Linked DNA regions of Homo sapiens: region 2 is linked to region 1. The links come from fine-mapping of genetic effects on gene expression. A gene starts in region 1. The other region holds a variant in brackets. All regions are shown on one strand. Distances are from middle to middle. Region 1 holds the start of DNAJB12 (DnaJ heat shock protein family (Hsp40) member B12). Region 2 overlaps DNAJB12 (DnaJ heat shock protein family (Hsp40) member B12).

Region 1 (2,904 bases):
TAGCCCTCGAAGAACGGGATAATGATAGAACTGGATTACACTCTGTAGTAGAATCTTTTTTTTTTCTTCTTTTTTTTTAGATGGCGTTTCACTCTTGTTGCCCAGGCTGGAGTGCAATGGTGTGATCTTGGCTCACCGCAACCTCCACCTCCCAGGTTCAAGCGATTCTCCCGCCTCAGCCTCCCGAGTAGGTGGGATTACAGGCCATGTGCCACCATGCCCGGCTAATTTTGTATTTTTAGTAGAGACGGGGTTTCTCCATGTTGGTCAGGCTGGTCTCGAACTCCTGACCTCAAGTGATCCGCCCGCCTCGGCCTCTCAAAGTGCTGGGATTACAGGCGTGAGCCACCGCGCCCAGCCTGTAGTAGAATCTTTACGCTCCCTAGAATGTATTCGCCTTCCTGATCTGTTATAACTCACCAAGAGAATTCCCTTTTCAGAGCCTTTGCACTTGCTGTTCCTTCGGCCTGACCACCCTTCCTCCAGACAGTCACATCTACCTGTTATCGTTCCTGAATTCTGGTACCTGTTAATGACAGCTTCTGAGAGGTTTCTTTTATCGCGCTATTTAAAATAGCGCCTCCCACTCTCTATCCCTGTGTTTTCCATAATTTTTCTTCAGAGCTTTTATCACTATCTGAATCTATCTGGAGCTCCCCCAGCCTACACACACTGGAATGTAAGCTCCATGAGAGCAGGAGCTTTGTTTTGCTCACCCCTGTATCCCCATCATAAAACCATGCCTCACAAACAGTGGGCACTCAATATCTGTTCAGTGAATAAATAACCTTTGTCTGAAACGTATGTAGTTACATTACGTATATAGATCACCACTTAGTAAACCGTCTGGGAATAACAGGCACTCCGAAGGCCCCAGTCTCATCCCGACGGCTACCACGTGACCTTCCTGAGCTTGGGTTTCCTCCTCCGGAAGATTAGAGGGTTGGCGCATACTCAACTCTAAGACCTCCGGAACATGGAATCTGGGCGTGCACCATTATTGACACCTACACCAGCCGTCCCTTTCTTAGAAGACATACGGTAGCACTTCCACCCTCGCTCAAAACTCGGGAAAGGAGGGGCGGAGGGTGGATGTCATCACTCCGCGCCCGGCTGCCCGCGACGCGCCGGCGGGTGGCGCAGCCCTTCGCTCGCCCGGCCTCCCCCTCCCTGGTTCCGCGTTCTGGTTCCGCCATGGAATCCAACAAGGATGAAGCTGAGCGCTGTATCAGCATCGCCCTCAAGGCCATCCAGAGCAACCAGCCCGACCGGGCGCTCCGCTTCCTGGAGAAGGCACAGCGGCTGTATCCGACGCCGCGAGTTCGCGGTGAGTGTGAGGTGCCGGAGAGACTGGGGACATTAGAACTGATGGGGGGAACACGGGAACGGACCGACGGGAGCAGTTGGGGGAGGGGGAGGGGTGGCGAGGCGCGGCTACGCCTGCGCACTGAGGCGCGCGGTGGCTGCTGGGAGGCGTAGTTTTTCCCTCTTGTTCCTCTGCGGGATGCGAGCCGTCTGGAGACTCGGGCGGCCGGGACTTCAGCTTTCGGGGTGCTGGCGGAGCCCGCTGGGGTTTGAGGTCTCCGAGAATGAAACGCGCTGGCAGCCGGGACGAAGGGAACTTACCTGGAAGTGAACTCGAACTACTTTTCCCAAGGGGCCGTTCGGTAGCCCAGGCCAGTCGCCGGCCTGGGAAATATTACAGTTCAGGAAAATAAACATAACTCCTTTAAGGGAGAGAATGGGCGCTAGACAGGGAGACATTTCTGTTCTTCGGGCGCCAGGGAAAGGCGCTTCCGTATCTTCACTCCCTCTCACCTCTCGGGCTGAGGGTCAGGGACCACTCTCCCAAAATGCAAGCCGGCCTTTGCACCCACCCCAGTCCGCCGCCTCGGACTGTCCTGAAGCCGGGCCCCTCACTCCTCCCGATGATGAGATTCGGAGCGGGTGGCCTGGTGGGAGGTGCTGACCTCAGCCACCGCCAGTCCTCCATCGCCCGCAAGAGTCCAGCGGCGGTCAGCCATGTGGACGCCGAGGCTGCTGAGTTGCCCTGGACAGGAGCCTCCTGAGCCAGGGAGGGAAGAGTGAAGCTGGCTTTACAACTCATCACCTCGCTTCACCCGGGAACCCTTTCTTTTTTCTTTAACCTAAGTTTTCCAAGGAGTTTTTCTTAATCCACGCTAGAGGGGAGAGAGACACCGGGTGGTGCTTGTGATCACCACTCAGTAAACCGTCTGGGAATAACAGGCACTCCGAAGGGCCCAGTCTCATCCTGACGGCTACCACGTGACCTTCCTGAGCTTGGGTTTCCTCCTCGGGAAGATTAGAGGGTTGGCGCAGATAATGTGATTGGCAATAATACCCATAGGGCTTTGCAGTTTAGGAAGCTCCTTCACCTGTGCCTTCTCACTTGAGCCTGCCAGTCAGGGATGCAGAGCAAAGATCATTATCTTTATTCTATGGGTGAGGAAAATCTCTGAGGTAAGGGATGCCCAGGATGACACAGCTAGAAAGTAAAATGTTCTGTGACTCTGTAAATGTTTATGAAGGAAAAGAAATGAAATTGAGGAACAGCAGTCAGCCTCCTAACCGGCCCTGCCCGCCTGATGAGATTGAGAAAGCGGAACGCTGGTGGAAGAGGTAGCCTGGACTGCTGAACTTTCCTCCCTCCGGACTCTTGCAGGTTGATCTTTGGCCTGTTTGCCTCCCCTTGGAGAGGGTTTCGGGCTGTATTTGCCAGGACACCTGAGGTAACCTGCTCGAGGAGCCTCCCTGTGAATTAATTCATATTCTGTGGTGGGGTGGTATCCTCCAGCTGTCAGAATTCTGCCTGACACTGATGCTGCTGCGGGCTCAGGAGCAGGCAGCCAAGAAAGGATGGGCCACAGGGCCTCTGGGGATCTT
Region 2 (2,904 bases), 23 kb after region 1:
TTATAAGAACTGATGTGGCCAGAGTGCCTACCCACTGTGGCCCCGGTGCTCTGCCCCCACGCCCCGACCATCTGGTCTTGGTAGATGTCCCTAGACGGGCTGAGCCATGTGCAATAAGAACATAGATCCTAAAGGATCCTCTGGAAGCTGTATTTCTTGAATTAGAATTCTCAAATTGTACATCTGTTAATATATGTTTATTATGTGACTGGCCGTGGTGGGTCTGCATTGAGCAGGGAGGCCTAAGGGGTGGGGGGGAGGGGGCACAAGCCCCTGCTGCTGCTGACACTGTCCAGCCTGTGCCACAAGGAGCTCTAGATGATGAGCCTGAATTTCCCCCGACCCCTGGCCCTGGCTAACAGCCACTTAAGCCACACATGCTGTTCCAGAACTAACTCCATCCAGGCAGAGGGGTGCTCAGGTGACTGGGGGGCTGCAGGACCTGAGCAGTCTGGGTCCCTGGGGTCCCCAGCGCCAGTCCTGGCTGGGCATCTGGGCCACGACCATCACCCTCTGCTTTTCCCTCTCCCAATCCCTCCCCCCCACACCCTCAGGCCTGCCATGTGCCCGCAGAGCATTCGAAATTCCCGGCCCCAGCCTGGAGCTCGATCCCACTCAGGAGCCAGATCCTGGGAAAAGTGTTGCGAGTTTGTTTCCATCGTCCTTCCCACCATCCTCCCCCAAACCGCCCCCGCAGCCCGCCCTCCTCTCCAGGAGGTTGAAAAAGTTTAAAATGTGGCAGCCCAAGTCGGGTCGGGCTCCTGTGAATGGAGCGGCAGATCTGCCCAGGCCTCCCAGAGACAGGGCCCGGCAGCCCTGACTGGCGGACCCAGGCCCCTCCCGCGGCTGCACCAGCCAAAGACAGGCGGGCTGCCCAGTGGTGCCACCGTGGCCCGGGAGCTCATTGGCTGCCCCTGCCCAGGGTCACCACTGCCTGCCCTGGTGTGCAAGCCGCCACTTGTTAGCTGCGGTTGGCAGAGGCGTTGCAGGCACCCCCATTCACCCACCTCATCCCCCCTGCCCTCCCTGTGTGGCTTGGCCGTGAGCCAGAGGAGGTGGGATGCACGCTCTGACTGCAGCAAAAAAGGCTTTGACAAGTGTCCCCCACCCACT[G/TG]TCAGGTGGCAGAACGCGCCACTGCATCCCAGCTCCCTGGCTCCACTAGCTTATAGCCTTGTCCCTTGCTGCTCCCAGGTCCAGAGAAAAAAAAACTGCTCCAGGGACAAGGAGCACACACCCGACCTGCCTGTAACCTCATCCCCACCCCACATTGCCCAGACAAAGTCACCTGGCGTCTGGAGCAGGCACACAGCCATGCCAAGAATCAGGTAAATAGACTGTTGACATGGTTCAGAAGCAACCCAGCGTCCCTACCAGACATCACGCCATGTGACATGAGCAAGTCAGCTCATTTCCCAGAGCAGGAAACAGGCTTGGGGGAGGAAAGTGGCGCCCAGGGTCTTGAAGAAACTGTGCCTGTCTCTGGGGTCCTTGTAGCAGAGTGGTCATTCTACAAACAGTTGCTGAGCCCAAATTTGCTGCACTCAGGGAAATCAAACCCACTGGTGTCAGGTAGAGTGGGCAGAAGACCCGAGTCCAGGAGGGTGGAAAAGGATGAAAAGGCCACACTGAGGATGGTGGCACTTCATCTGATGGGCTTGGCCTAGGGAGCAGCTGCCCATTCCAGTAGGTGTCTCCTGGCAGTGACACGGGCATCCATCTGGCTGCACCAGGAAACGTCATCCCCAGGAGGCAGCCTCGCAGCCCCCACGGGGGCTGAGGCTGGATCTTTGCCATTTACTGACTGGGTGACCTTGGGTGTCCCTGAAGGAGTTCAGGAAATGCCACCCCAAAATCTGCCATTTTGGTGTGCTGATTACTTCAAACTGGGGGCACTTGAGCAACAGCAAGTGCAGGAAGGGCTTTCTCTGAAGTTGCCTCATCTGCCTAAGTTGTCCTGAACTCCCTCCTGGAAATCTTACCTACCAAGGAGGATTGACTCATTGACAACAACTGCCTATTATTCTTGGGGCTGCTCAGACAACTGTTAAGACCTGAGAGACTGACTTTTTTTTTTTTTTTGAGATGGAATCTCGCTCTGTCACCCAGGCTGGAGTGCAGTGGCGCAATCTCGGCTCACTGCAAGCTCCGCTTCCCGGGTTCACGCCATTCTCCTGCCTCAGCCTCCCGAGTAGCTGGGACTACAGGTGCCTGCCACCACGCCCGGCTAATTTTTTTGTATTTTTAGTAGAGACAGGGTTTCACTGTGTTAGCCAGGATGGTCTCGATCTCCTGACCTCGTGATCCGCCCACCTCAGCCTCCCAAAGTGCTGAGATTACAGGCATGAGCCACCATGCCTGGCCGAGACTGACTTTTTATCTGCATAACGAGACAACTTTTGCTCACCATGCAGTTCCTCCCCTCACCCTCCCAAACTTGCATTGCCATCACCCACCAGAAGCTCCCAGCCCGTTTTTTTTTTTTTTTTTTTTTTGGTTTTTTTTTTAAGGTACAAAGGTTATCCTGGACCCCAGTTCCTTTTCTGTAGCTCAAGATGTGATCTTTCTTGAAATTGCATATTTTGTGGGGCTCCCATGCCTATGTACGTAATTAAATATGATTTTTCTCCTGTTAACCACTTTATCTGTCCATGTAATTCCTAGCACAGTCAAAGACCCTAGAAGGGTGGAGGGAGCCAGTTTTTGCTTTCCTGTGTCATTTGACTGCCCTTTGCCTCAGTGTCTTCATCTGCAAAATGGGAGTGATACAAACACCTACCTCATAGGATGGTTGTGAGGAGTAAACAAGTTACCACATATAAAGCACTTAGAACAGTGCCTGGTACATGGCGAGTGCCATTTGGGTGTTTCTTGTTTGTCCTTAGTGGACAAAGATTAGCTGAGCAA

What was found. PIP is the estimated chance that this variant, and not a neighbour inherited with it, causes the effect.
Region 2: its variant is fine-mapped to the expression of DNAJB12 in blood mononuclear cells (TOPMed, PIP 0.92).

Annotation. Positions count from the first base shown.
Region 1 is chr10:72,353,188-72,356,091 of GRCh38, reverse strand. It overlaps DNAJB12 (DnaJ heat shock protein family (Hsp40) member B12), which reads left to right and starts at 1,173. Exons shown (of 9, transcript NM_017626.7): 1 at 1,173-1,327. The coding sequence starts at 1,195. RefSeq lists enhancers at 947-1,196, 1,587-1,716.
Region 2 is chr10:72,330,139-72,333,042 of GRCh38, reverse strand. DNAJB12 (DnaJ heat shock protein family (Hsp40) member B12) reads left to right here. Exons shown (of 9, transcript NM_017626.7): 9 at 1-180. Among named protein-coding and RNA genes, the nearest start is that of DNAJB12, 23 kb to the left of the region's middle. RefSeq lists a silencer at 733-982. The variant G/TG (reference allele first, on the strand shown) is at 1,114.